Linked DNA regions of Homo sapiens: all the other regions are linked to region 2. Evidence: fine-mapped expression QTL. A gene starts in region 2. Each other region holds a variant in brackets. All regions are shown on one strand. Distances are between the middles of the regions. Region 1 overlaps PADI2 (peptidyl arginine deiminase 2). Region 2 holds the start of PADI2 (peptidyl arginine deiminase 2). Region 3 holds the start of SDHB (succinate dehydrogenase complex iron sulfur subunit B).

Region 1 (10,206 bases), 21 kb after region 2:
GAGTTTTACACCTTATAACACACCTCCGTTCAGAATAGCCGCATTTCCAGTGCTCGGTAGCCATGTGGATGTTGTGGGGTTAGACCATGGAACGATGGCTTCGTAAAGGATGAAAATTATAGACAGCTGAGTGATAGAAAGTTTAGAGGCTCAGAACCATAGAATCATTGGAGCTTACAGTCACAAGTGTCCTTGGTCTATCTGTAAAATGGGGTGCTGAACATCCATGGGTGATTTGCCTAAGTGGTGAGGCTGAGACCAGAACTGTCTCCTTTCTGGGTTCCGTAATTATGAACTTTACCATGTGCCCCATCACAGTGATGGCATTGAACATGGTCCAAAGAAAATAGCCTCAGCCCTGTCCCCTCAGTGGGCACTAGACGTGCAACATGGCAGATATGGGGGACCCCAGGCAGCAGAATGCACACAGTGGCACAGGAAGGCAGACAGCATCCTAACTGCCCTCTCAGCCAGCAGGAGGGGAGTCCACAGTCTAGTTCAGTTACCTGAGGGAAACCGCCCACCAACCCAGGAGTTCTTCCTGGAGGAGAGGGTTCTGATGTTTGGAGAGGGTTGGCTTGACAAGCTGTGAGGGACAGCAGTTGCTTCAGGTTTTCCTGCTTGTGATCTGTGATCTCTGCTCTCTTTTCTCTCTACTCCAATGTGCCCCCTCCCCACCAAGGTCACCGTCAACTACTATGACGAGGAAGGGAGCATTCCCATCGACCAGGCGGGGCTCTTCCTCACAGCCATTGGTGAGTTGGCATGGTTGCCGTCTCAGTGCCTTCATCACCCAGGGCCTGGCACTGTTGTCCTTCTCTGGGGCACTTAGGCGGTTCTCAGTGCGGCTGACCTGGCACTTGGAGCTTCTTCTGAATGGCACAGGCCTGGGGAGGGATGTCACATGTGCCCCACCCCGGTCCTTCCATACTGGGGTGGGGGCTTATCTGCAGGAAGAGGCACTCCCTGATCCATCAGCAACCCCCCCCCAAGTGTCAAGGTCCCCTTCCCAGGCTCTGTGGCCCTAAAAGAGAAAAAGGTGAAGTGTGTTTCCCCCTGCCTCTCCCCTGCAGCCTGGAGAAGAGTGTCCCTCTCATGGTGAGGGGAATGGCCACAGTCTATAAAACTAGCAGCTGTTCTTGACAATCCCAGCTGCCCCCTGGTTCTCCCCAGATTCAGCCCCGAGGGTGCAGAGATGCAGCCTCCAGGTCCTTAACTCACCTAGTCCAAGTCCTTCATTTGATCCACAGGATGGTGAGGCCCAGAGAGGTTAGGGAATTTATTCAACATCACACAGCAACTGGGTGGCAAGTTGAGTCCAGAACCCAGAATTATCCCTGTCTCAGGTTCTCTCCATTGCATCACACTGCCCTGCGCTGGGTGCCAGGCCTGCATGCCAGGGAGGTGGAGCCTAGCCTGGCTCTACAGGACCCTTGGCTGTGATCATCTGAATTTTCCATCACTCCACCCCCTGAAACTGAGGCATTACTTTTATGCTATTTTATTTCATTTTTTAATCATAGAATGTTAAAGCCAAGAGGACATTTCAGAGGGTCATTTTGTTCATCCAACCTTGGTTTAACATTGACAGAGTTGCCGCATGGCAGAGGAAGGGAACTACCAGTTATTGAGAGTCAACTGCATGCTGAGTGCTTTCAAAATAATGATGCGGCCTGCTTATTGCAGGCCTACTGTGTGTCTAGAGCTGCACTGGGCACTTTGATGAGGAGGAGGAGGGGGAGAATGGTAAACACCTGATATTAATTGAGCACCTATGGTGTGCCAGGCTCCAGTACTCAATGTTTTACCGTCACGATTTCAATCTCTTCTTCCAACTATTCCAAGGATAGATATTATTATTATCATCCTCATTTTATAGATGAGAAAATCAAGGCTCAGAAAAGGTAAAACAAATACTTGCCTGCAGCTACATCTCCAGAAAATGGTTGGTGAGATGCCAATCATTCCAGTTATCCCACATTCTCAGGGGGGGTCTCAGAATCTCCCCAAGATACAACTAACTCCCGAGCCAGCCCCTTCCTCTCTAGCCCTGTGCTCTCAGCTGCTTAAACAGGCTTAGCAGCAGGGCCCTTCTCATTCTTGGCTAATTCCCAAATGGGCTTGGTTGCTGGTCCCCCTGTCCCTCTTTCTGTCCCAAGGAGGTGCCCAGCCCTGGGGTAGGGAACCTCGGGATGACCTTGGTGAGGGTGGCAGATGATCAACAAAGACTCCTGGGTTGTACTGAGCCCTGGCACGTGTGTGAACCTTGCATGCACACAGCATCCAGGCAGTCTCAGATGACAGTCCCTGAGGAAACCTAATCCCACCAAGATAGGGACACCTGAGGACGGGGGCAGGAAGGGCAGGGGCCTGACACCTGTCAAATGAGGATGATCCCAGAAGGCTGACTGCACCATTAACAAGACTTCCACCAAAGCAAGACAGACTTAGGATAGATGGCAAAATAAGCGTCTATAAGGAGGCAGGACTGGACTTTTCCTCCTCACTAGGAGATGACAAAGCTGTGCTTAGAGGAAGCCCGCTCAGAGTTGGCGGCATGGCTGAGTCCCAAAAGATGCCACATGTGCCCACGACAAGTGACCAAGTTCATCCTTCCGAGGTCTGTTAATAATTATTTATTTAACTGCCACAAGTTCCAGATATTTAGATTCCATGGGCCAATCAAATGTCCCCTGCCCCCACCCCCCAAAAAATGAGAACACTAACAACTTTGATGCTTGGCAAAAAAAAGAAAAAAAAATACATCAATAAAACAATTTGTGGCCAGGCGCGGTGTCTCACGCCTGTAATCCCAACACTTTGGGAGGCCAAGGTGGGCAGATCATGAGGTCAGGAGTTTGAGACCAGCCTGGCCAATGTGGCGAAACCACATCTCTACTAAAAATACAAAAATTAACTGGGCGTGGTGGCACGCACCTGTAGTCCCAGCTACTCAGGAGGCTGAGGCAGGAGAATTGCTTGAACCCAAGAGGTGGAGGTTGCAGTGAGCCAAGATGGTGCCACTGCCCTCCAGCCTGGGCGACAGAGCGAGACTTTGTCTCAAAAAAAAAAAAAAAAAAATTTGCTATCAACTATCACTATCATTTTAACTCTTAAAAAATAGGCAAGGCATAATCTCAGAATAAAAGACAGTCATGGCCGGGCACAGTGGCTCACGCCTGTAATCCCAGCACTTTGGGAGGCCGAGGTGGGCGGATCACCTGAGGTCAGGAGTTCAAGACCAGCCTGGCCAACATGGTGAAACCCTGTCTCTACTAAAAATATAAAAACTAGCCGGGCATGGTGGTGGACGCCTGTAATCCCAGCTACTCAGGAGGCTGAGGCAGGAGAATTGCTTGAAACCAGGAGACAGAGGTTGCAGTGAGCTGACACAGTGCCACTGCACTCCAGCCTCGGCGACAGAATGAGACTCTGTCTCAAAAATAACACAAAACAAAACAAAAAACAGAATAAGAGACAGTCATTCAATTGCAAAAAGAAACTAACACCATTGAACTTCTGTTTCCTGTTCCAACAGAGACCCTGGTGAAAATCTGGTTTCCCTTGGGGACCACTGTTCTCTCTGTCCCTTCTAGGTTTTCTCTTTTCTCGAGCATCTGCCCCAGGAGCCCTTGAGCCCGTCATCCTGAGTAATCAATCACTCAGGGGCAGCGCCTCAGAGGCAAGCCCCCCCCCAACCCCAATATCTTGAGAGGCTGGGACTGTCCCCTGGGCACAAAAATGTATCTGAATCTCTCTCACCCTGGTCCTATCCTGAGTCCACATTGAGCAGAAAGAGCCTTGGCTTCTGGGTAGACAGAAGTAAGCCTAAGATCTTTCTCTGTCCCCTCCAGCCAGCTTGTGACAAGTCACATCATCCCCCTGAGCCTTGGCTTCCTCATCTATAAAATGCGCTTCACAGAGCAGCCTTGCATGGTGTTTACAAGGATTCAGTGGGATGTTGTGTGCGAAGGGCCCGGCACAGAGTGGGTGCTTAGTCAATGCTCCGCCTGCTTTTCTCTCTTGCTCTTGAGGTGGCCGCATTTTCTCTCTGCCTGGGTGAAGTTAAAGAAATGTATGGTCTCTCCTTCTTCCTTCTGGGATTTGGGAGCAAATTCATGATTCCTTTGGCCAGATCAGGCTCTGGGTCTTTGTCCCAATCCCGCCAAGGACTTGCTGTGTGACCTTAACAAGTAACCACCCCCACTAGGACTCACTTTTTACAAACTATAAAATAAGGGGTTTGAGCTAATTAATCCCTAAGGACCTTCAAGACCCTGGTTAGGGTTGATTTGCAAAGACTTCCATTTTTTGGGAGGGATGGGGGAGAGCAAGAGGTGAGGTGTGGGGAGGGAGGAAGAATCCCACCCTATTTGAGGTCCTGGCAGTGGAAGGAGTACACATATGCGGGCCCCAGAAAATTTTAACATCAACCTAAGGGGCTTGATCCTATGCCTTCTCCCCAGAGGCTGGGATACTTGCCCTGATTGGCTGTGGGGGAGGGTGTCCTTCCTTCCCATAACATCTCAAGCTGCTTAGTAAGGCAAGAAGGCCAGGCACCCTGCCACTCTCTGGCGACCCTCCAAAATGCTTGTGCCTCTCGGTCAGAGCTGAGGCTTCAGTGTCTTCATTCTCAGGGCAGACTGCCTTGAACCCAATCCTAGGGACATTTCCCGTCAATCTGCCCCACACCCAGGAGCCACCTGACGCCTTGGGGCTATTCTGGGGAACTGAGGTGGGATCCAGAGCCTCTGGGAAATGTC[G/C]TCTGGAGCCTGGAGGCCCTGAAGCAGAGCTCCTCTCCCTCCTCCCCCTCGGGAAGGCAGAGCCATCCCAAGAGGCAATGCTCTGGGCAGGTCACACCAGCCCTGTTCTCTGCCCCTACCCGCAGCATCCCACTGGAATCTAGTTAAATCAGACATTGGGGGAAGCCTTGCAGGGGCGAAGTCCCATGGGCATGACTACAGGGTGGGCGGTCTCTGAGGGTGAAGGGGCCAGAAGGTCATTTCAGTGGATTATGGGGACAGGTCATGGGTCATCAGAGAGGAGTTATGAAGCCCTGTGAGAGGCTGGGAGGACGATAAGGGAGCCACACTGTGAAATGCCCACATTTCGTAACAGGAAGGTAACGAAACCTGTCTGAATTCAGTAAATCAGGAAATCGCAATAAGCATGAGAGAGGTTGCCTTAGGCAGCTGAGAAGAAGGGCTGGACAAGGAACTGCTGTCTTTCTTTAGAAACAGTGTGTTACTATTTTATTTGATTTTGTTTGTACTATGTCCAAATATTACATGAATAAAATGTTTCCATTTAAGAATTCATAATGAAATGAAGCAGTATAGACTGCACCATAATTTCTCTCCTAGCCCACGGCCCCACTGCTTTAATGGACTCGCCACAAGGAGTCCCAATGTAATGTCACCTTACGGCCTAGAGACGAAGGCCGCAGGGCTACCAAGGTGGGGAAATGGGCACTTCCTCTGGGAATGACCTTCAAGGGAGCAAGTCTTGTGTCTTTGACTTTGGGCTGGGCTTTTGGAAACAGCTTGCAGGGAGGTCAGCCTGGGTTCATTGCAGGGAACAGCAGAGAGCAGGCAGCCGGAGTCCGAGGCCCTGCTGAGAGCCTGGCTCTGCGTTCTGGGAACTTCGGTGGTCACTTCCCTGCTGCGGGCCTGGGTTTCCTCATCTGTATCGTTAGGGGGTGGGGGTGGTCACGCCTCCCCTGGAGTGGCCGAGAGAACACACCTTGGAAAACGCTGTGCAGCTGCAGAGCAGGATGCCCGCAGGGGAGAAATTTTTACCTTGAAAAGGACAGAGTGGCTCCCTAAAGAGGCTGGACCTGCGGCTCCTTCCGAGGGAGGAGTTTCAGGAAGCCAGCTCCCTGAAAGGCAGCATTCAGTGGACGTGACCGGCTGGAAAGTTCACAAAGGTCCAGGAACCAAAACCAGTATTATTCCTGCCCCTGCACCCCAGGCTCTTAGCCCCTGGTGGTACCGCCTTCCCTTCTTTCCCCTGGGGTCCTTATCCTGCACCAGCCTCCCAGATTACCAGCCCGATTTGCTGACAAGTGGCTTCTCTGAACCTGGGTTTGCTGCCCTGTGAAACGAGAGCAATGCTATTCATCTCATGGGACTGTGGACGCCTTGAGAGCAGGTGCTGTGCCTCCATTGCCCGTTGCCTGGTACAGCTCCCGGAGCAGTAGCTCCTCAGCAGTGAAATGTGGAGTGAATGCGATCGGAGGGAGGAGGTTACAAATTATGCCTTACAGCACCTAACTCACCGCACAGCTGCAGAGGCTGGGACACACAAGACTGCCTCTCTCAAGGGCCAGGCGCCCTTGCAGCCTCCTTCTAGACTGGAAAAGTCACATGCAGGTCTAGGGTATGCAGGCTATAGGCAAAGGGAGGACCTGAATGTGATCTCTGGACTCTGGGCTTGGTTGGCCCAGAGAAGGGTGACATCAGTGCACTTCGTGTGCCAGGACCCTCCTTTCCATGCCCTCCAGGCAGAGGGTGTGCCTGCCACGGGGACTAACCAGGAATGCATTCATTACCACCCAGCGCCCACCAGGTCCAAGTCATGCTCAGCGTGAGATGAGCCCACTCGGGCAGCTCTGGGGACCTGGAACGGGCACATGTCATGTGTGTGACACTCCCAACACCTTCCCAACCACATCCCTACTCGACCTCATCCGTCTCCAACTCAAGGCAATTTCGCCTCCCAAGGGACATTTGACAATATCTGGAGACATTTTTGGCTGTCACGACTGGGAGGGATGTTACTGGCATCTGGTAGGTAGAAGCCAGGAGTGCTGTTAAACATCCTACAATGCACAGGCTGCCCCCACACAAAGAGTTATTTGGCTCAAAAATGTCAGTAGTGCCTTCCATTGCAGCTAATGCATCTGCTGTAACCAGGAAGGGCCCCATGTTACAAGTGAGGAAACTGGGGCTCAGAGAGGTCCTCTAACCTGCCCAAAGTCACACAGCTTATAAGCAGAGAACCAGGGTCTAAACCCCACCTTGTCTGATACTAAACCTTTTCACTTCCCTACAGTCTCCACAAAGCCTGTCTCCATGGCAGGCCTAGGGATGCTGAGGGTCCCTTCACCAAGAGAAGGGATAAGTGGGGGCCTGGCCCTGGATCCTCCATCTAGACTCACAGGTGACCTCAGACCAAGAGGGGTTAGAGACAGCTTCCCACCCACAGTAAAACCCTCAGTCCTTGAAGGTGGGATCTAGCCCACTGGAAGTTCTGGGAGAGAAAGAGACACGCACACCCAGGTGCACATGTGCACACCTATGCGCATGCCCGGGTAGACTGAGAAAGGCAGTTTGGGAATGCTATCCCTGTTAAGTTTTCAGAATATGAACTATGAATCAGACCAACCGCACTGTGTACCCCAGTTCTGCTAGCGTCCCTATGTGATCTTGGGCATGCGACTTCACCTCTGAACTGAGGCATCCAGATCTGTGCAGCGAGGATCATTCCCCAACCCCCAGCCAGAACAATGAAGTGGTAGGAGGTCCCAGACCTCCCCGATGGCAGCTCTTGCAGCCGTAAGCTACGAGGTCCACACGGTGTCTGCTGACGGTCTCCAGTGGGTAGTGGGATGTTGAGGCAGGGGGTTGCATAAGATGACTTCAGCGAGGTCCTCTCTTTCCCGTGACCAAATGAATGGCTGAGACGCACCCAAATCCCACAGGTCTTCCTCTTGCCCCTGCCCTGCCCTGCCTGGCAGGCTCAGCAACTCACCCATGTCTCTTCTCCCCAGAGATCTCCCTGGATGTGGACGCAGACCGGGATGGTGTGGTGGAGAAGAACAACCCAAAGAAGGTACCTAGCTTTCAGGGCAGGCACCACCCTGAACCCAGGGCTTCCGAGGGCACAGCCCCAGATCCCGCAGGCAATTCCCATTTCACAGCTCAGGAGACTAAAGCCCAAGACAGGCTCCCAGACACACAGCATACCAATGATGGAACCCACAGAGGAGCTCAGGCATCTCCTAGAGACGGCAACAGAGCAGGCTCCTGAGTCTCAGTTTCTCCATCCCATGATGGGGACGCCCAATTCATGGAACTGCTGGGAAGGATAAATGTGCCCGCTACAGAGGAAGCACTGTGAAGGCATTTGCTCTTATTATTTTGCCTGTTCTTTTAAGACTAGGGAGGTGGGGGAGACAGACCCTCAGGACAGAGGGTCGCATTCATCATTCTCAGTTCCAGGCGTGGTATTATCTCTGCTGGTGCATGCACGGCCCCTCTCCTCTTTCTATTTATTCTTGCATTCATTCACCATTCATTCATTTGTTCCCTCGTTCATTTACTTATTTTCTTTTATCTTGCATTCCCCACTCCCATTCTGCTCCCCCACAGAGGACCATTTTGCTGGGTTTAATGTGTCTCTTTCTGCTCTGGTGACTCTCAGGAGGCATGTGGTGTGGTTGGTGTGCATGTATTTTTAATTTGTGCAGACGGCATGGTGTTCTCCATCACATTCTGTTTTGTACTTTTCCCTCAACCTAGTTTTTAGGCTCCATCAGTCTTGCTCTGTGTACATTCAGGCTGTTGCTTCTAACTGCTTTCCATTTTCTGCCCTTCTGTATTATCTCAATTTTTGCCATGGGCATATGTGACTTTTATAATAACACTCTGAAGCCTAGAGTAAAGTATACATAGAGGGGTACTTACGAAGTAAAATAAACACAGCCTGATGAGAAGCCTGGGTCCTAGCAGCCTGCTACCCTGACTCTCTGCAGGTCAGGAGAGGGTTCTCAGCCATGTGGGGAAGTCCCTTCTTCTAGGATCGTGAGCAAGGCTTGCCTGAGACCAGGGCCAGCCCTGCACACTCATTCTCTGAGTCTATGGCCAAGCCATATGAGAATGAACTCCACAGAGGCCTCTGAAACCCAGCAGCCCCAGGGCGACAGCTTCCAACCTCCCCCAAGGGGCTGGGCAGTCTTGGGAAAGTCACACGATCCCCATGAGCCTGAACTTGGCCAGAATTTTTAAATCTGGGCCGGTGAAGTTTTCACATTTTCTTCACTCATCCCATAAATATTTGCTGAGCATCTTTTATGTTCCAGGAGCGGGTCAGGCCCAGGGGACACAGAAAGAACAAGAGAAACACAGCCCTGGCCTTAAGGAGCCCATGGTCCACATTAAATATGGAGTGTTTCGGATAGCTGTGTCATCACAGTTGTCCTAAGTCCTCCCAAAAAGGATGTGTACAGGGCCAGGTGTGGACCCGGGGAAGCTGCTCTGTCCTAGAGAATCAGAAAGGCCTCCAGGAAGAAGAGACAGTCATGCTGTAACCGAGGAAGGGTAGAGTGGGCCAGGTGGAAAGGGGCAGGACAGGAGCAGAGGGACTGGCATAGGCAAAGGCCTGGGAGCTTGAGTCTTTTGGGAGCAGAAAGGCGCCGGGATGGGTGGGGCAGAGTGAGCGAGGGGCAAGGCGGAGGAGATGAGACAGAGAGGAAGGCAAGTTTCACCAGGCCTTCCAAGCCACAGCAAGGAATCAGGGCTTCATGCCAACTCAACTGGGAGCCCCTGACCTGGCTTAAAGCAGGGAAGCAACACAATCTGGCCCGAGTTTGTTCTAGTAGTGCTATGGCTGCAGTGTAGAAAGTGGAGCACCATGCAGGTCCCATTCGGAGCACTAGGAGCGTGTCTGGAAACAGCTGGGTGGCATCCATCCAGGCGTCTCCTCCTGAGCTCCCCTAGGGACCTAGGGACCCATGGTAGAATGTCTGTCTGCTCATTTCTCTGGCCAGCCTCCACCTCCCTGCCTCCACCCACACCAGACACCAGCTGCACCAGACAGGAGGCCCATAAATGCCTCAGTCAGCCTTCCTGTCTCTGTGCCTCTATTGAACTTGCCTTTGATGCCCACATTCATCCTCTGTGGACATCAGTCTTGAGATTCACATTTGCCAGGTCACAGCTGCCCCAGTGGGTGGCGGCTACTCTTTACCCTCATCCTGGGGCTATCTCTCCAGTGTCCCATGGGGTCTATACAAGCATAGAGAAGAGGGCACTGACCTTTCTTCCTGCCACTGTAGGCATCCTGGACCTGGGGCCCCGAGGGCCAGGGGGCCATCCTGCTGGTGAACTGTGACCGAGAGACACCCTGGTTGCCCAAGGAGGACTGCCGTGATGAGAAGGTCTACAGCAAGGAAGGTGCCAGCAGGCCCTGCACTTGGGGGGCAGG
Region 2 (10,206 bases):
CCATGCCTGGCTAATTTTTAAATTTTTTTGTAGAGACAGGGTCTTGCTATGTTGCCCAGGCTCATCTCAAACTCCTGAATGTTAGTGATCCTCCCTCCTCAGCCTCCCAAAGTGTTGGGATTACAGGCTTGAGCCACCACATCCAGCTAATAATACATTTGCATTTAATGAAATACATTCACCATATTATCATTCCAACATGGAGTCAATTATTTTTAAAATTACCATCTTTTTCTCCTTGTAACTCCTTGAAATCTGTATTTTACACCAGGGGTCCCCAACCCCCAGGCTATGGACCATTACCAGTCTGTGGTCTGTTGGGAACCAGGCACACCGCAGGAGGTGAGCATTGGGCTAGCAAGGGAAGTTTTGTCTTTAGATTCCCATAGGAGCACAAATGCTATTGTGAACTGCGCAGGTGAGAGATCTAGGCTGTGAGCTCCTGATGAGAATCTAATGCCTGATGACCTGTCACTGTCTCCCATCACCCCCAGATGGGACCATCTAGTTGCAGGAAAACAAGCTCAGGGCCCCCACTGATTCTACATTACGGTGAATTGTAAAATTGTTTCCTTATGTATTACAATGTGATGATAGAAATAAAGTGCACAAGAAATGTAATGCGCTTGAATCATCCCGAAACCATCCCCACCCCCATCCATGGAAAGCCTGTCTTCCACAAAACAGGTCCCTGGTGCCAAAAAGGTTGGGGACCACTGTTTTACACCTACAGCATGTGTCAGTTCAGATTAGCCACATAAACCTTGTCTGGCAGTGGCTACATGTTGGAAAGCATGGGTCTAGGACCTCCCAGGCTTACTCTGGCCCCCTGGCAGCCCCTCAGACAACTGGCTTATTACATCTTCTCCAGAATTCACCTTTCTAGCTTTGCTTCACTGACTAAGGGTAGAACCCTGGCCCGGACAAGTCATCTTACCCTTGGATGTATAAAATAAGGGTAAGAAAAATACTTACTTCTGGGGTTGTAGCAAGGATTCAATGGGATAACATACACACAGTGCTTAGCGCAGGTGCCTGGCAGGGAATAAATGCTCCATAAATGGTGACCTAATGAATGAAAGCCTTAGCCCATCTTTCAGCATGGTGATGGTTAATTTTCTGTGTCGATTTGGCCAGGCTATGGCACCCCATCATCCAGTCAAACATCAGTCTGGATGTTGCTGTGAAGATATTTTTCAGATGTGATCAACGTTTAAATCAGTAGACTTTGAGTAAAGTAGATTGCACTCCAAAATGTGGGTGGGCCTCATCCAATCAGTTGAAGGCCTTAACAACAAAGACTGAGGTTTCCCAAAGAGGAGGCAATTCAGCCTCCAGAATGCAACATAGAAACCGTGCTGTTTCCAACCTGTAGATTTCAGACTCAAGACCGCAACATCAATTCTTCTCCCATTTCTGACTGGCCAGCTCTACAAATTTCAGGCTTGTCAGCCCCCACAACCATGTGAGCCAATTTCTTAAAATAAATCTCTCTCTCTGCATATATAAATGTACCCCCGAGTGGGGTACAGCCACAGCAGCACGCAGAAGAGACATGACTTCCTCATTCTGAACTCACGCAGTATTAGAACAATGGAGCACCCCAGCCCTTCCCCGCCTCTGAGCACGATGTCTCTCAGGACCGAGAGCTGAGGCAGAGGCTGAATCAACGCCCCCATCCCAGAGACTCTTCTCAAGGGAGTGAGACCAAAGGGTGGGCTTTGCCAGGGGAAAGGGAATGTGACGGGGCCAGGCAGGGCCAGGGTTATGGGGATCTGCTCTTGAGGGTATGACTGCAGGTCCCCATGGTGCAGAGTCAGGGGTTGGGGCGATCCCTGGCCACAGAAGGATTGCTTTGGGGATCCATGGCCCAGACCCCGACCTCTTCCTTTCTCTGGTCTCCTGCCAGAATTCCTGTCAAATTTAGCTGCCTACAGCAGCCAGAGTGATTTTCCTAAAGTGTACATCGTGCCGTTGACACCTTCCAAAGTCCTTCCCAGGCTTCCCCCATGACCCCATAAAGATAAAGCCCCAAAGCCTTTTCCACGACTTACAATGCTCTGTGTGACCTGGCCACAGCCAGCCCAGCCTCTCACATTGTGGAAGCTTTGAAGTATGTTATCAAACAGCATGTAGTCAGAAGCCCATGTTTACAAAAACTTAAAATAACTATATACGCATAGGAAATAACTACCGTCTACTGGAACTTGGGTCTGTGCCAGGCCACGATGTGCAGTACCTTACTGGATATCATCTTGTTATTCCTTGTTCCTTATAACAATTCCTAGTATCTCCTTTATAGAAGAAGAAACTGAGGCCCAGAGAGGCCCCCAGCTAGTGAGGGGCAGAGCCAGACTTGACCCCAGGTCCACCAAGACCAAAGTCCATGCTCTTCACTGCAGGCTGGTTGGTGCCTCTGTGCAGATGGAAGATAATAATAGCTCTCACCTCACAGGGCTGTCGTGAGGATTAAACAGGCTGAGATGTGTGTGTGAATGGGCTCTGAACAGCTCCTGGCATGGCGCAAGGGCTCAGGAAGTGTGCTGCCCCACAGCAGCCTGTGGGCAGCCCGGCCAGATCATACTCATAGATTCAGACTGATCTCTGGTACTAGGGTCATGGGTGATCATATTTTTTTTAACTTTTCCACAATGACCAGGTAATACTTGTGCATTTTTTTCTTTCTTTTTAAATTATTGTATGTATAGTGCTCTCAGTAAGCTGTCTGTTTCCTCAAAGCAGGCTTGTCGAAGTTTGAGTGGCCTCCCTGGTTCCCCCAAGGCCTGGCCCGGAGACCCCACACCCAGTGGAGGAACCTAACAGAAAACAGCTCAGAAGAGCCCCTCTTAGCCCAGGCACCCTGCCCACAGGCTTGGCAGGGGCGCTTGCTGGAGGGGTGGGTGCGGGTCTGTGCCAGGAACTGGCCTAAGCTAAGTCCCCAAAAGACACCGTGAGATGCTTTGTGGCTCTTCCGGATCCCAGGGGAGAGGTGGGAGCAGCCGTGATGCATGCGACCTCCGGCCCTGAATCCACCAACAGCTGTGACTACTTCAGCTATTTTAAACCTCTGGGCACCAGGAAACTCCTGTCTCATCAACCAGGCTCTGGGCCCAACATGATGGCCTGAGCCCGGGCAGGAGTCCTGAGTGTGGGTGGCCAGGTCTGAATTGGGTTTTTAAGGGGAGGGGGCTTCATTTCTTGAGCCTTGTGCCAGGCTCTGTGCTAGTATTTTCTGCACCTTGTTGTCTCGTTTAATACCGTCCTTACACCGTGCTGAGGGATCAGTTACTTCACAGAGGCAGAAAATGGGGCTCCGAATGGCAGGGTACCTGGCCCAAGGCGGCACAAAAGCAGAGCTGGGCCTAGAACTGCGACTTCCTTATCTACAAAGCATGGACAGCATTCTGCCCCTGCCCTCACTCGGCCTTGCCCCCTGCCTCCACCCCAGTGGCCCTGCAAGCTCCTCCCTCTGCCACTCTTAGGAGCTCTGCAACCCAGAGTCAATTCCCCCACCTCCTCACAGCTCACTTTCTTCATCTGTAAAGTGGCGGAGTTACTGGGAGGGTTCAGTGATCTAACTCTAATACATGAAAAGAGCCGCTTGGAACAGTGCCTGACCCACAGAAAGAAAGCAGTAAGTGCCCGCTCTTACTCCAGCTCCCCTGGGTATTGCGGTCTGATGTTATCACTATCTTGCCCAGTGTCCTGTTATGAGCTGCCCGGGGTCTCCGTCAGTGGGGGGTACAGTGTCCTCCCCCACTCTGGCCCCAGTCTCCCCATGAGTCAAATGAAAGTTAGAGCCCCAGGAAGGTGAGAACCCTGGTGGGTGCCCGTTATCTGTCACACAGTAAGGGCTCCAAAGTCACTCGTGGCAGAGGGGTGCCCAGACACGAGCTCACCTCTGGGGGCGCCTCGAAGTCTCTCCAAGCTACACAAGTTTTGTCCCAGTTTGGCAGGTGGCCACCCGAGAGATTCCTCCTGATTGGAGGATGTGCTCAGCCGGGTGCCTGGAGTTCATCAGAAGTTACTGGCCTCGGCCGGGCGCTGTGGCTCACGCCTGTAATCCTAGCACTTTGGGAGGCCGAGGCAGGTAGATCACCTGAGATCAGGAGTTCAAAACCAGCCTGGCCAACATGGAGAAACCCCGTCTCTACTAAAAATACAAAATTAGCTGGGTGTGGTGGTGCCTGCCTGTAATCCCAGCTACTTGGGAGGCTGAGGCAGGAGAATCAATTAAACCTGGGAGGCGGAGGTTGCAATGAGCTGAGATGGCGCCATTGTACTCCAGCCTGGGTAACAAGAGGAAAACTCTGTCTCAAAAAAAAAAAAAAAAAACAGTTACTGGCCTCTCCCTGGGTCTGTGAGCTGTGCCTTTGGGGGACAAATGACCTCCTGGCTAAAACTCGGGCCTTCCCTCTTCCCCACTCACATTCCTCCCAAATCCCTGCCACTCAGAAGCAGCTGGGCTCTTCACCACCTCCTAATTTGGGCCGCCTCAGGGAGAAGGTTGGAGTCCAAGGGCTGGGTATATCAGCACTGGGCACTTGTGGGCCTCACCCCTCTTGTCTGGGGGCACCCGTTCCTGGAGCTCCATCTTCCATCAGCTCTAACTCCTTCCCAAACACACATCCCCTCCGCCCCACTCCTTCCCTCCCACGGCCTCTGCCCACCCCCCCTCAGTTTCTGTCCTCACCTACCAAAGACCACTTCCTCACACAGGGCTGATGTATGTGTCTGAACAGCACTCCCACTGGGTCCCAGGGGAAGGGCTGGGACATGGGAGGGGCTGGCCGAGGCCCACACTGATTGTCATCCTACATCTCAGCCTCTGTGAGACACACGATGACCTCTGGGTGGCACCCCCCTTCCCTTGGTGGCCCAGGCCAGAACCGGGGCCCTAATCCTTACCCCTCTCCTCTCCCTCCACCCACACATCCTATCAGTCACCAGGTGCCACCAAAATCCCAGTCCCTAAGCAGTGGCCGGGTCAGTCCCCACCTCTCCAGCTCTGGCCACAGCCAGGGGCTTCCTTGCCCCTCCCCAGCCCAGAATGACCCATTTCACGAGCACACCCGACCACGGCTCGCGGAGACAACCACTCCAGGCTCCCATCTCCCACCCTCCAATGCCTTGGCTTGGCGTCCTGGTCTCCCTCAGCTGCCGGGTTCCCCATCCCCACCGCTTCCCGTTTTCTCTATGGTGAGGTTCATCTGACTGTTGGGGGATGGGGGTACCGGGCTGCACCCGGCTTTGCACAGGCAGCTCCCTCTCCTCGCCTTTAATTTGCAAACGCCTCCTTTAAGAAGGTTCCAGGATCGTCTTCTCTGGGAAGGCTTCCTGGCCCCCAGGCTGGGTTAGGGCACCCTCTTTGTGTTCCCACATTTGCATTTTCAGCCCCACTGGGCTGGGGCGTCCGGAGGGGAGCTAGGGCCCTCCAACACCTGGGCGCCCACCGAAGGTTTGTCGAATGAAAGAATGACAATCCAACCATGGAAAGCACAAAACTGGTCCCTGATGACTTCGCCACGACCTCAGCGGGGCGGGACGAGTTAGGGGCGGGACCACGCTTGACGGACAGGCCCGCAGCCCACTGCGAGAGGACTGGGGCGGGCCGCCCCGCCCACCGGCCGCTGGATAAGGCTGCGCGCGGGGCCGTGGGGCGCAGGCTGCTGGAGAAGGCGCACCTGCTGCAGGTGCTCCCGGCCGCCCCGGACCAGCGAGCGCGGGCACTGCGGCGGGGAGGATGCTGCGCGAGCGGACCGTGCGGCTGCAGTACGGGAGCCGCGTGGAGGCGGTGTACGTGCTGGGCACCTACCTCTGGACCGATGTCTACAGGTGAGCCGGCCCACCGTGATGCCCGGGCCGAGATCTCGAGCCCAGAAATCCTGAGACGCGCTCAGACTCGGGGACGTGGACAGCCTTTGTCCAGCCCGAGTTGTCCCTCATCCCGAGCCCCCGAGCCCAGAAATCCTAAGAATCTCATCCAGAAACCTGACAACCCCCGAACCTTGTGTCCACCTTCCAGAAACCCTGAGACTCTCCCAGACCCCCTAACACAGCCTCAGCCCCAGCTCCCTCACAGACCCTCCCTTTCACCCGTAACCCTCCGTCTGGCCCTCTCCAGTTCTCCTCCCGGGGGACCTCACACCCCTTCAGCTTCCCTGCCGTCCTCTCCCCTTTCACTTCCCCTCCGCACCTCACTTCCCCTCGGACCCACCTCAACCCAGCCCCTCTCCTGCTTCCCACTCCCAGTTCAGCGGAGCTTCCGCGGAGACTTGCCGGGGACTGGGGCAGGACCCGAAGGGAGCTGCCCTGAGGCTGAATCCGGCCCTGGAGGTTACTCAGGCTCCGATTTCGCCCTGTGGGGGCTGCTGGTGGTTGCTTGTCCCCAGGCACTGGCCCTGAGCTCCGTGTCCCCAGATACCTTCCCCTGACTTCATTCTGAGACCACAGAGGGACAATATTCTACCCAGCTGACGACGGGGACTTGGGGTGTATAGCGGGGTACTTTGTTGGAAAAGGATCCTGATTCAGAGTTCTGCTCCCTCCCCTTCTCTCTGTCCAAGAACTTGGTAGAGTGCGGGATGTCCGAGACAGCTGAAGGTAGGGTAGGGCCCTACCACTCCCCCCGCAATCCCAGAAAGCAGCCAAGTCCAATGATCTGTCTCCCTGAGTAATGGGACGGGGCCTTGGAAAGGTGTGGCTGGTGTGAATGAAAGGGTGGGGTTATGCTGGGGTTTGATCTGCCCCCTCTATTCCAAGCATTTAAAACCTCCCCATTGCTAGGGTTGGAGGGGTCAGTGCTGGGGGCAGGGAGCATGCAGGACTCTGAGGTGGGACCCTGTGCTGACACCGGATGAGTCCCCTATCCTCTCTGCCTCAAGCTGAACTCACACGGAGGCACCATCGTGGTTTATGGCTCTCAAATCATCCTGACACCTGGAGCACCCTGCCTCTCCCAGGCCCCCACCAACCCATCATGTGTCTCCCCACACAGCCCTGGCAGCCCTCCCACCTGCCCAACCAGTCTCCTGCCACCGCTGCAGAGGCACTGGCCACGCTGATACCAACAAGCCCCAGGACTAGGGACCCACTCCATGCCTCTGTCCCTGGCCTCAACCTCTGCCTTCCCCTGGGCCTGGGCTTCAGTTGTCCCCCATGTAAACCTCAGAGGTGGACTGGGTGGTCTCTGAGAACAAGAACACAGCAGTGGAGGGTGGTCCAGGCTCTGGTGGGGTGCAAGAGCTCCCCTGCCTTCCCCACCCCCAGCCCTGAACTGGGCACCGCTAGGGAGTGGGCGCGGAGCCAGAGTGCTCAGGTCTCTAAGCCTCAGCTGTCACCATACCCACCTGTTTATTTGCTGGGGCATGGTTGGTGCCGCCTGAAAAGCTGGCATGATCCTCCCAGTCGGGGGTGGGGAGCAAAGGAGGGTTCCTGCTCAGGCGCCCTGCTATCGCTCTATCCTGGCAAAGAGAGGCCCAGCTGGGGTAGGGGCACAGAGTGGGGCAGATATGGACTCAGCCTCCCTCTAGCAGGGGGCAGCAGTGTGACGATTCCCCTTGTCCTGTCTCAACGACCACAAAGACCCTAACCCCCACCGGCACTTAAGGTTCTCCACCACCACAGAGAGGGGCAGTGCGCTCTAGACCAGTACTGTCCAGAAAAGTCCAGTTTGAACCACAACAAAACCACAATTGCATTTTAAATCTTCTAGTAGTCCACACTTTTTTAAAGTTAAAACAACAGGCATAATTTTAATAATATATTTTGTTTAACCCAATATTTTAGAATATTATCATTTCAACATGCAATCAATATAAAAATTATTAAGGAAATGGTTTACCTTCCTTTTTTCATGCTAAGTCTTTGTAATCCAGTGCACATTTTACACTTCAGCACATCTCAGCGTAGATTGAGTGCATCTCAGGTGCTCACTGGCCACCGTGAGCCAGTGACACCGGGACAGAACAGGTCTAGTGCAGAGTTTCTCAATCTCGCACTATTGCATTTTGGGCTCGATATTTCTTTGTTGTAGCGGGATGTTTAGTGGCATCCCTGACCTCTGTCCCCTAGATGCCAGTAGCAACCCCCAAATTGTGACAACCAAAAATGTTGCCAGACAGTGCCAGCAGTCCCCTGGCAGGGGGCAAAATCACAGCCAGCTGAGACTCACTGGTCCAGTGGAAGGAAGCCTCTTCCAGGACTAAGGAGCTTGAGTTGTTACTGCTATTGTGACTCGAGTTACCTGTAGTAATGAGAGCAACTGCCAGTATTGATAACAGGAGGAGGTATTAGTGGGCACTTAGGAACTGAACCCACCACCTCCTTTCTTCCTCACCATAGACCCTGGAGGGTTCATTGATCATCCCATTTTACAGATGAGGAAGGTAAGGCTCAGAGAGATGAAGCCATTTGTCCAGAGTCACACAGGACTCAGGTCCAGGTCTGTTTGACTCAGAACTCATGCTCTTATACCCCACTCTGTCCTATGTGACCCTAAAACCAGCGGGTTGAACTGGACGGCCCTCTCAGCCTGTGTCTCTTCCACCCTGGCCACGAGCCCACTGTCCCCAGAGACTTCACCAACTCCCATTTGGCCCTCCACTCTTCCCTGAGTCCTTTGCTGCCCGGACACAGGTCCTGGCTCAAGACCCCAAGTGATGCCCCCAGAGCCTCCAAGTAGACCCCAAGGAACAAGGCCCGGGGGTGCTGGGCCCAGTTAATTACGGAGTGGCATCCTGACCCTCACTCCTTCTGAGTCGCAAAGGTGAGCGAAACGGCCTCAGCACCCACTCCCTTTCCCAAGGGCTCTGGACTCCCTTTCCTGTGATGCTGGCACACAGGATCCCCTCCAGACACATAGCAGGGGCCTCCCCAGCCTCATTCCTCAATAGACCTTGTGGTCCTGGCAGGCACTGCCCTACCAGCTTCCATCCACGGGCTGTGTGACCTTGAGCAAATCGCTTCACTTCTCTGAGTCTCCACTGACCCAAATGGGGGTCGATCAGAGAACAGGAGGAAGGATCTTGTATTCAATAGAAGATGTACACTCAGGGTCACAGTGATGAACAATTGACCACTATGCTGCCCTATGAGGGGTCATCCAGGCCACCATGGGCAGGGGTGCTCTGGGCCACCCACGCTCTCCCAGCAAAACTGGCCCCCCTGGGGATGGATGCCTTGACCTAGCCTCATTCTGACTGCTAGTCTCCAGCAAGCAATGAATAGATACATAGAAAGAAGGAAGTAGGGTGTTTGTTAGAAATTGTACTTTGTGATTGTTGTTAAAGATACTCGCTGTTTCCTTCTGCTCTTCCCAAATATACTCATCTTAGTCTTGGCACAGGTACACCTGGCCCACACAATCTCCTCCGGTGGTCCCTTTAGCCGACAGTCACTTCTTCAGTGGGGCTGGCCTGGGTCCCCATCTGATTTGGGCTTGAAGTTGGAAAGAGAGCACAGAGGGAGTCCCTAGGTTGGTTCCATCCTGGCCACCCACCTCTTGTGAGCCCTGGAGGCATGGACACTCCCAGAGTCTGGAAGGATTATTAGGGACAGGGCAGCCTCGGAGTAAAGTAGGTAGCAGGGTGGTCACTCTCTGCCCACAAGCTGGGCCTTGGGAATGGCTTCTTCTGTTCCTCCCTCGGCTTATGCCTCTGTCAGTGAGAGTTCTCGAGAAGGCAGGGCTCTTCTTTTCCTCCCTGGTGTACAGGAGCCAGGATCCAGATCCTGAGGTCTGCAGGAGCTTCAGGACACTGGAATGATCTTAACATTGTCCCTTTGCCTGTGCAGAGGTTCCAGCTGCGTCTGTGAGGTGGAGGTGGGAGGATTCCCTTCCCTGGGATTCCCCAAGGCAGAGGCTGACCAGCCATTGTCCCAGTAGAAGACAGAAAGAAGATAAATGTCAGCTAGTAATATCAAGTAAATAGTAATAATTTGCCCATAACTCGCTGGCAGAAGATAGGAAGAAGGTATCAGGCAGGCGCTCCTAGACTTTGGCACAAACTCACTCCCAGACTTTCTGTCTCTTGGTTGGTGTGAAGGCTAGAGATGTATTTGCTTTTTTAAAAAGTGTCATTAGGACAAAGGCCAGGAGGGTCTGAGATCCAGTTTTCCATGATGGGGGCCTGGGGTGCTATGGGCTCCCCTCCCCATAGTGTGCCAGGCCCTACCTCACTGATCTCCTCTTCTAGCAATTCCTCAGCA
Region 3 (10,206 bases), 69 kb after region 2:
TGGCATCTGCCTTTGAGATGAAAGAACCCTGAAAATGCTAAGAGGACCAATTCTCTAGAAATACATTCCTTTCAGGAAGAGCTTTCTTCAGCTCAGACGACAATTCAGTTAGGAGTTAGAGACAGAGCGGCAGTCTTCCCATATCTCAGCCAGTTTGGGTGACCCAAGAGGCCCCATGGGGCAGACCAGAGGGGCCCTGTTCCAGTCCTGGGTCAGCACCAGTGAAAGTCAAGGTGACCTCAGCATTGTTACCAGTTATCCACAAGACAGCCACGTGAATCACAGAATCTTAAATCAGAGGGCCCAACACCCTAATGGTTCAGGCAAGGAAACTATAGGTCAAAGATGGGGAGGGGCTTATCCAAGGTCACATGGCCTTGAAGAGAATATTCCAGGTTAGACCTAGAGGTTCAGGCCTCACTACACACCCCCTTTAATGAGGCCACACTGGCGGTATAGCGGGGTTCCAGTCAAGGACTCCAGAAACAGCCCATCCAGCCAATTGACCTGGCCATCTCAATGTCTCCAGTAGCATCCACATCAGCTGTGAGAGTGGAAACCAAAGACTATAGAAAGGCGCCCTTCACATGTCCAAAACAAGCAGACAGAAAGGGGAAAAAAAAATCACTCCTACGAAACCCCGGGACCTGCAAGGTTAACAATCTACACAAACGCGTGGAGTGACTGAAGAGGCAGGTGCCTTGGAGGCTCCAGGCCACTCCTGCCCAAGGTAAGTCCCAAGAGTGAGGCCAGCTCTGAGCAGATCCATGGAGGGGGCTGGAAAAAGAAGCTGAGATGTCTAAAATGGAAACTCAGTAAAAAACAAAACCAAAAAACTTTCTTCACAGAACTGCTGTGGGGATTAAGTGGGATAATGGACCATAATGTTTGGCACAGAGTAGAAATGGTTTCTTATATTAAATGGCTAACAAAGCCACCAAGGACTGGGTGTCCTTCTCTGGGCACACCCTCTCGTACAGAACAGAGCTCACAGTGTCTAGCTGTCTGCTCACTTGCCGTCTCCACCACTAGAGAGTAAATTCAATGAGCAGTGACCACCTGGCTTGCTCATTCCCTGCAGCATCCCAGCACTTGGTGCCTGCCACATAGTAGCCACTCCATTCGTATTTATGAATGAATGAATGAACGAACAAAAGAATGGCACCTTTGCCAGCCACCCTTGAAATCACCTCAGCTCATTCACCAACTGCCCAGTTTGTTTGGGACTCTCAGTGCAGAAACCTGGGCAGCCTCGGGCAAGCTGCACGGTATGCGACAGAAAGGGCTGACTCAAGCCAGTAAGCGTCAGAGATGAATAATAAGACTGACAAATTCTTAGGGAGGCTAGGTGTGGTGGCTCACGCCTGTAATCCCAGCACTTTGGGAAGTTGGAGCAGGATGATTGCTTGAGCCCAGCCTGGGCAACATAGCCAGACTCCATCTCTACAAATAATTTTTTAAAAAAATTATCCGGGTGGCCGGGCGCGGTGGCTCATGCCTGTAATTCCAGTACTTTGGGAGGCCGAGGTGGGTGGCTCACGAGGTCAGGAGTTCAAGACCAGCCTGGCCAAGATGGTGAAACCCCATCTCTACTAAAAACACAAAAAAATTAGCCGGGCATGATGGCGGACGCCTATAATCCCAGCTACTCGGGAGGCTGAGGCAGGGAATTGCTTGAACCCGGGAGGCGGAGGTTGCAGTCAGCCGAGATCGCGCCACTGCACTCCAGCCTGGGAGACAGAGCGATACTCCATCTCAAAAAAAAGAAAAAAAAAAAAACTACCCGGGTATGGTGGCTCACACGCCTGTAGTCCCAGCTACTCTGGAGGTGGGAGGATCGCTTGAGCCTGGGAAGTCGAGGCTGCAGTGAGCCAAGACTGCACACCGGCCTGGGCAACAGAGTGAGACCCTGTCTGAAAAAAAAAAAAAAAATTGGCCGGGCGCAGTGGCTCATGCCTGTAATTCCAGCACTTTGGGAGGCCAAGGTGGGCGGATCACGAGGTCAGGAGTTCAAGACCAGTCTGGCCAAGATGATGAAACCCCGTCTCTACTAAAAATACAAAAAATTAGCCGGGTGTGATGGTGTGCGCCTGTAATCCCAGCTACTCGGGAGGCTGAGGCAGGAGAATCGCGTGAACCCGGGAGGCGGAGGTTGCAGTGAGCCAAGATCGCGCCATTGCACTCCAGCCCGGGAAACAGTGCGAGACTCCATCTCAAACAAACAAACAAAAATTCCAGGAATAAAGAGGTTGAAATCGGGGCAGGGACCCGGATAGGATGGCTCCGCCCCATCTAAGTCTTAGCCCCACCCCCTGAAAGTCGCCCTGCCTCTCAGACTCCTCCCCTTTCTGAGAAGGTCACGGGGGAAGCCAAATGGGCATGCGCCGCTACTGCGCTATTGCGCACGCTCGCTGTGCTTGCCCCGCCTTCCCTCCGCCCACCCGGGAAACCGGAAGCCGCCTCCCACTTGGTTGCTCGTACGCGGCTAGTGGGTCCTCAGTGGATGTAGGCTGGGCGCCGCGATGTTCGACGGGACACCGGCGGAGAGCGACCTCGGGGTTAAGGGGTGGGGCTGACGTCAGGAGCCAAGATGGCGGCGGTGGTCGCCCTCTCCTTGAGGCGCCGGTTGCCGGCCACAACCCTTGGCGGAGCCTGCCTGCAGGTGAGTCCTGGAGCCTCAGAGAGGGAAAAGTCAGGAAAGCCACAGAGACTGCCTGGAGCTGATGGGGCTGCGGAGAGACTGAGGAAGCATAGGGCAAGGCCTCAGGGAGATGGAGGACCTCCTCCCCCTGGTGCAGTGCTTTGGTTTGGCTTCGAGCATCCCTGTCAAGTTATCTTTCTGCGCCTCGCAGCAGCTTGTGAGTTAGGGCACGGGCAATTTTTTACAGCTAAGGGTGCGGGGGGGGGGGACGTTCAGAAAGGGGACTTGAATTGCTCAAGGTCACATGGCAAGCGAATGACTGCTGGAACCAGAATTTGAATCCAGACATTGGAGTTCCAAGCCCTTTTTCTGCCACCAAACTATCGCCTCTGTAGAAAAGGGAGACCTGCGGGGTGTGAAGGATGGGAATTGGGAAGCGAGGTAATTCCTCAAGGGTGCGAGGTTGAGGACCGGGATGGGTGAGGAAAGGACATGTGAATTGTTGGGGACAGGGCAGGGGAAGGGAGAGATGGAGGGAAATGCACCCAGCCCCCTACCTCGAAGGATCCCGGAGGTGGGTGGTGGGGGTTGCAGGAAAGACTGGGTTCCTTAAAGCAGTGTCACCACAGTTTCACTAGTATCCTCTCAGTGTTTCTGACTCTAAAGGTCATATAATAATACGGACCTCATAGAGTTGACATGGAATGACAGGTAGAGGGCTTGGCGCTGTTCTTGTTTATTACTATGCCGTGTGCAGTAACAGATTTTCCCACGCCCCTTGTATGGCCAAGAAACAACACATTTCTGACCTGCCTTCTAAGTGGGAACATTTAGAAGGGGAAGGGAAATTGCTTTTGTATACATAAGGGACTAAGGATTTGCAAATCCTTTCTAAGTCTGTTCCTCTTCTGGGATTCTCAACAACCCCTTTAAGGTGGGCAAGCAAGAATCCTTACCCTCCTTTTTGGAGCTTTGAAAACTTGAGGCCCCCAGAAAGAAAATTTTTGGCTTGCTCAAAATATCACATTCCCAAGAAGCAGACCTGAGGCAGTTTTTTAACATGGTACCAGAAAAACTCCTTAGCATAGATCTTGGGACATGGTTGGTGTCCAAGAAATTTTAGTTCCTCTTCCTCTCTTGCACTTAAATGAGGACATCTTTCATCTTAAGTGCCTGCTATGGCTGCATAACACAGTACATATTGCCCATGTTCCAATCCTGGTTCTATCCAGCATGCTGTGTGTGAACTTGGATCCACTCTGTCTGCATCAGCCTTTCTGAAAAGGGGAGATAGAGGAAGAAGACAGCCTACCAGAGCCTCAAGCTGACATCCTCTCAGTATTAAATTGATGATTGATAATGAGCTTGTTTACCTGTTCCTTTTATAGTTGCTGAGCAAACAATTAAATTGTGAGAGCCCCACTAACGAGAGAGTTCCAAGCCCCTCTTCTAAGAATGCATTGTAGAAAAGGCTAATTTCATAGGTCATTTTTGTAATTCCAGGCAAGGTCTTTGCAGGGCCTC[C/T]TGAGGGCAACAGAAAATAGAAGAGCCCCAAGGCCTCCCCTTCCTTGTGGGAATGTACATGTATACCCACAAAAGCCACCTCAAAAGAATTCAGTAATGAGCTTGGTGTGTTACCTGTGGGTAACATTCAGGTTCAGGTTCTGAATTCTTTTTATGCTTATAGTCTGACCACTGAACCACAATTCTGCCTGTAAGTATTTGACTGTAGTATATTAACTATTGTTTGTGTTGCCTTATTTCTTCATCTGGACTATGAACTCCTTTAGGACAAGAACTACCTACTTAAAAGTGTGTATCTTGCCAGGTGCAGTGGCTCATGCCTGTAATTCCAGCACTTTGGGAGGCCAAGGTGGGTGGATCACCTGAGGTCAGGAGTTCAAGACCAGCCCGGCCAACATGGTGAAACCCCGTCTCTACTAAAAAAATAAAAAAAAAATTAGCTGGGCGTGGTGGTGGGCGCCTATAATCCTAGCTACACAGGAGGCTGAGGCAGGAGAATTGCTTGAACCTGGGAGGTGGAGGGTGCAGTGAGCTGAAATCGCACCATTGCACTCCATCCTGGGCGACAAGAGCGAAACTCAGTCTCAAAAAAAAAAAAAAAATTTAAAAAATGTGCATCTTGTTCCTTAGGCTGGCAGGGCTAGGATACCTATTTACAAATCAGAATAATACAAAGACTGATAAGGTTGCCAATCTTGTAGAGCAAAAATTTTTTTCTGGGCTATGCTAGAAACTTGACCCCCCCTCCCCCGGGTTATCTTATGAGGCAGATATTAATACTACCCACCCTTTACAAAGGAAGAAATAGAATCCGAAAAGCTAATAATTTGCAGAAGAATACACAGCTTGTAAGTGATAGAGCTTGGATTTCAAGCATCACCAATCACACTTTTCAGCAAGCCTGCACCTTGTATTTTACTCAGGCTTATCTTCATACAGTCCTTTTTGCTTTCTTCCTCTCTATTTCCCCACCTTCTTCTCTGGCCTCCAAATCTTTATCCACTCCATCCAACTCCAAGCCTGCACCCTAAGGACACTTTACTGGAGGAACAACAACCAGCCTTCAGCACCATTCAGAATTCACCCTTCTCAGTTCAGTTGTTGCTTACCTTGCTTAAATTATAAACTATGAAATTCATACTATCCAAGATTTCCTAGGAATGTACTTTCTGCCTTGAATACTCATTAGTCTTTAGATTAACGTAAAAATGCTTTCAAGGGGCCCTCTTTCCTTTTGGATTTGTAGTATAAATTGCTGGGCAGGTAACAAGGGGAAAAAAATCATATAGTCTCATTGTATGATTAGAGCAACAACTTCTTTTGTTCCTTGGATCTCATTGTGAAATGGAATTATCTTTTTGCACTGTTGCGTTTTATGTTTGCGTTTTCACCACTGGTTATAATGGCTAAAAGGTTGGATTTTTGAATCAAGTGACCTGTGTTGCTATATGATCCTATCCTCGTCTTTTAACTGGGAACAACAAAACATTTTTCATAGAGATGTTATAAAGATTAGAGATTATTTGGCACCGTGTGTGACAGATTATAAAGGTTCGATGAATGAAATCTGGCAAATTTTTAGATATATGTATTCAACGAATTTTTTGGTGGAACACAGATAACATAATCCTGAGAATTAACTCTTTGTACAGACCTCAAGATGAGCAAAGCTCTATCACTTTCAGAACCATGACCACTCTGGTGATTTTGATTTCAGAATCTTCTTTCATTCTGGTAAACCCCCTTTGCCCCACCAAATATTGTATGAAATACATTTTTTTTTTTTTTTGAGACAGAGTCACGCTCACGTTGTTGCCCAGGATGGAGTGCAGTGGCGGAATCTTGGCTCACCGTACCCTCCGCCTCCCGGATTTCAAGCAATTCTCCTGCCTCGGCCTCCCAAGTAGCTGAGATTACAGGTGCCCGCCATCGTGCCTGTCTAATTTTTTTGTATTTTTAGTAGAGACGGGGTTTCACCGTGTTGGCCAGGCTGATCTCGAACTCCTGACCTCAGGTAATCCACCTGCCTCGGCCTCCCAAAGTACTGGGATTACAGGCATGAGCCACCACGCCTGGCCTATAAAATACATTTTTGACACAAAACAAATTTAAATTAGTTGTACTGAAAAAAAAAAAATGATGACATTTTGGGGCACTCCAAAACTGATGTTGGGATATGTCGACTTAGATATTCAGTGTAGTACATCCTGGCATTGCTCTTATTTCACATCATTCATATGATAAGACTTTTTAAAAATTTAAATTAGCTCTAATACAAACTTAGTCTCTTTTGGAAAGATAATACGTGATCAATTATCCGTGTAGAGTGGATATGAAACAGATATTTAAATGTTATAAAGAAATGTTGAAGGGAAAACCTCATTGCAGGTAACCACAGTCATCCCACAGGCCTTGTGGTTCTGATACCCAGCTTGATAGAGCCTAATGCCTGTTGCCCACTGACAATACTAAATCAGGCTTTAGAACTAGGGGGTTATGCCTGGCACAGTGGCTCACACCTGTATGTAATCCAGCACTTTGGGAGGCTGAGGCAGGTGGATCACGACATCAGGAGTTCAAGACCATCCTGGCTAAAACGGTGAAACCCCATCCCTACTAAAAATACAAAAAAGTTAGCCGGGCGTGTGACACGCGCCTGTAATCCCAGCTACTTGGGAGGCTGAGGCAGGAGAATTGCTTGAACCCAGGAGGCAGAGAGATCTCGCCACTCCACTCCAGCCTGGGTGACAGAGTGAGACTGTCTCACAAAAAAAAAAAAAAAAAAAAAAAAAAAAAAGAACTAGGGGATTATGCTCCAGTCCCAGATTCTGTTTAAAGCCCGGTTAGGGGCCAGGCGCGGTTGCTCACACCTGTAATCCCAACACTTTGGAACGCTGAGGCAGGTGGATCACTTGAGGCCAGGAGTTTGAGCCCAGCCTGGCCAAATGGCAAAACCTTGTCTGTACTAAAAATACAAAAATTAGCTGGACTTTATGGCACATGCCTGTAATCCCAGCTACCCGGGTGGCTGAGACAGGAGAATTGCATGAGCCTGAGGGGTGGAGGTTGCAGCGATCCAAGATCGCGCCACTGCACTCCAGCCTGAGCAACAGAATGAGACTCTCCAAAAAAGAAAAAAAAAAGTCCAAGTTAGGGCCAGACACAATGGCTCACACCTGTAATCCCAACACTTTGGGAGGCTGAGATGGGAGGATTGCTTAAGCCCAGAAATTCCATACCAGCTTAGCCAACATGGCAAGACCCTGTCTCTACAAAAATTAGCTGGACATGATGGTGTGCACCTATAGTCCCAGCTACTTGGGAGGCTGAGTCAGGATGATCGCCTGAGCCCAGGAGTTAAAGGCTGCAGTGAGCCATGATCTCCAGCCTGGGCAATAAAGCTAGACCATGTGTCTATAAAAATAAAAAATAAAGGCCGGGCAAGGTGGCCTGTACCTATAATCCCAGCACTTTGGGAGGCCAAGGCAGGCGGATCACCTGAGGTCAGGAGTTCAAGACCAGCCTGGCCAACATGGTGAAACCCCGTCTCTACTAAAAATATAAAAATTAGCTCGGCGTGGTGGCAGGCACCTGTAGTCCCAGCTACTCAGGAGGCTGAGGCAGAAGAATCACTTGAAGTCGGGAGGTGGAGGTTGCAGTGAGCCGAGATCGCGCCATTGTACTCCAGCCTGGGGGACAAGAGTGAGACCCCATCTCAAAATAAATAAATAAATAAATATTTTAAAAAATAAATGAAAAATAAAAGTGTCCAAATTAGAAGTAAAAACTTGAAGTAGCCCCATTTTTTAAAAGGCATATTGTCCCACTTACCCTACTATCTGCCTCAGGCACAGCAGCCACCCACTCTGGAAAATAGTTTTGTCAGTTGCTTAAAAAAAACTAAACTTGTAGCTACCATACAGCCCAACAATTACACACCTGGGTGTTTATCCTGAGAAATGAAGATGTAACGTTCACACAGAAATTTGTCCACAAATGTTCATCTCAGCTTTATTCATGTCACCAAAAATTAGAACACCCCCAATGTCCCTCAGTAGTTACATGGTTAAGCAAATTGTGGTACATGATACCTTGGAGTGCTACTCAGCTATAACAAGAAAAAAGCTATTGCTGTACACAGCAACTTGGATGAATCTCCGGAGAATTCGGCTGAATAAAAAAAGCCAATTCCAAAAGGCTACATACCAGATGATTATATTGATATAACATTCTTGAAATGACCGAATTTGAGAAGTAGAGAACAGATTAGTGATTGCTAGGGCTTACGGAGTACAGGGGAGGTAGGGTGGGAGGAAGTGGACAGGGCTATAAAAGGGCAATGTTAGTGATCCTGTGCTTATGGGAATGTCCCCTATCTTGACTAGCACTGTCAGTATTCTGGTTGTGCTGGTGTGCTACAGTTTGCAAGATGTTCCTGTTGGGGAGACTGGGTAAAGAGTATGTGGGCCCTGGCATGGTGGCTCATGCCTATATCCCAACTCTTCGGGAGGGCCAGGCAGAGGATCACTTGGGGCCAGGAGTTCAAGACCAGCCTAGGCAACACAGTGAGACCCCTATCTCTACAAAAATAAATGTAAAAAAACTAACTGGGCATGGTGGCGCATGCCTGTAGTCCTAGCTACTGGGGAAGCTGAGATGGGAGGATCGCTTGAGTCCAGAAGGTTGAGGCTGCAGTGAGCTGTGATCATGCCACTGCACAATCAGTGACAGAGCAAAACTCTCTCTCTTTTTTTTTTTTTTTTAGCTTGAGTTTCACTTTGTCACCCAGGGTGGTATACAGTGGCACAGTCTTAGCTCACTGCAACCTTTACCTCCCAAGTTCAAGCCATTCTCCTGCCTCAGCCTCCCTAGTAGCTGGGATTACAGGCACACGCCACCACACCCTGCTAATTCGTTTTTTTGTATTTTTAGTAGGGACGGGGTTTCACCATGTTGGCTGGGCTGGTCTTGAATCCCTGATCTCAGGTGATTTCCCAACCTCAGCCTCCCAAAGTGCTGGGATTACAGGTGAGAAGAGTATGTGGAGTCTCAGTATTATTTTCTTCTTTTTGTTTTGTTTTGTTTCTTTGAAACAGCGTCTCACTCTGTCACCCAGGCTGGAGTGCAGTGGCGCAATCTTGGCTCACTGCAATCTCCGTCTCCCAGGGTCAAGCGATTCTCCTGCCTCTGCCTCCCGAGTAGCTGGGATTACAGACATGTGCCACCACACCGGGCTAATTTTTGTATCTTTAGTAGAGACGGAGTTTCACCATGTTGGCCAGGCTGGTCTTGAACTCCTGACCTCAAGTGATTCGTCTGTCTTGGCCTCCCAAAGTACTGGGATACAGGTGTGAGCCACTGCACCTGGCCTCAGTATTATTTTCTATAAATGCATATGAATCTATAATTATTAAAAAATAAAAAGGTTGGCCAGGCACGGTGGCTCACGCCTGTAATCCTAGCAGTTTGGGAGGCCAAGGCAGGCAGATCACCTGAGGTTGGGAGTTTGAGACTACCCTGACCAACATAGACAAACCACATCTCTACTAAAAATACAAAATTAGCCGGGCCTGGTAGCACATGCCTGTAATCCCAGCTACTCGGGAGACTGAGGCAGGAGAATTGCTTGAACCGGGGAGGCGGAGGTTGTGGTGAGCCAAGATTGCACCATTGCACTCCAGCCTGGGCAACAAGAGCAAAACTCAGTCTCAAAGATAAATAAATAAATAAATAGTTTAATTTTTTAAAAAAGCATTTAACTATGGTTATATGCAGTAACATATGAATCTCAGAAGCATTATGTTGAGTGAAAGAAGCTAGACATGAGACTACGTACCGTATGATGCCATTTATATGAATTCTGTAAAAGGCAGACTCGTGATGATAGCTGATCAGTTGCTAAGGGTAGGAAAAGGGGACTTATGTTTGCCATCAAGGGCACAAAAGACCTTTTTGGATGGAAATACTCTGTTGTAATTGTGGTAGGATTACATTGCTTTGTCAAAACTCATTATACCCTTAAAATTAGTGAATTTTATTAT

What was found. PIP is the estimated chance that this variant, and not a neighbour inherited with it, causes the effect.
Region 1: its variant is fine-mapped to the expression of PADI2 in whole blood (INTERVAL, PIP above 0.99).
Region 3: its variant is fine-mapped to the expression of PADI2 in whole blood (INTERVAL, PIP above 0.99).

What each region holds. Positions count from the first base shown.
Region 1 is chr1:17,093,536-17,103,741 of GRCh38, reverse strand. It overlaps PADI2 (peptidyl arginine deiminase 2), which reads left to right. Exons shown (of 16, transcript NM_007365.3): 3 at 683-755; 4 at 7,772-7,833; 5 at 10,058-10,175. Among named protein-coding and RNA genes, the nearest start is that of PADI2, 21 kb to the left of the region's middle. The variant G/C (reference allele first, on the strand shown) is at 4,764.
Region 2 is chr1:17,114,909-17,125,114 of GRCh38, reverse strand. It overlaps PADI2 (peptidyl arginine deiminase 2), which reads left to right and starts at 5,664. Exons shown (of 16, transcript NM_007365.3): 1 at 5,664-5,835. The coding sequence starts at 5,744. RefSeq lists silencers at 2,939-3,122, 5,645-5,854 and an enhancer at 4,539-5,073.
Region 3 is chr1:17,046,404-17,056,609 of GRCh38, reverse strand. SDHB (succinate dehydrogenase complex iron sulfur subunit B) reads left to right here and starts at 2,578. Exons shown (of 8, transcript NM_003000.3): 1 at 2,578-2,662. The coding sequence starts at 2,591. RefSeq lists enhancers at 2,039-2,088, 2,639-2,698. The variant C/T (reference allele first, on the strand shown) is at 4,166.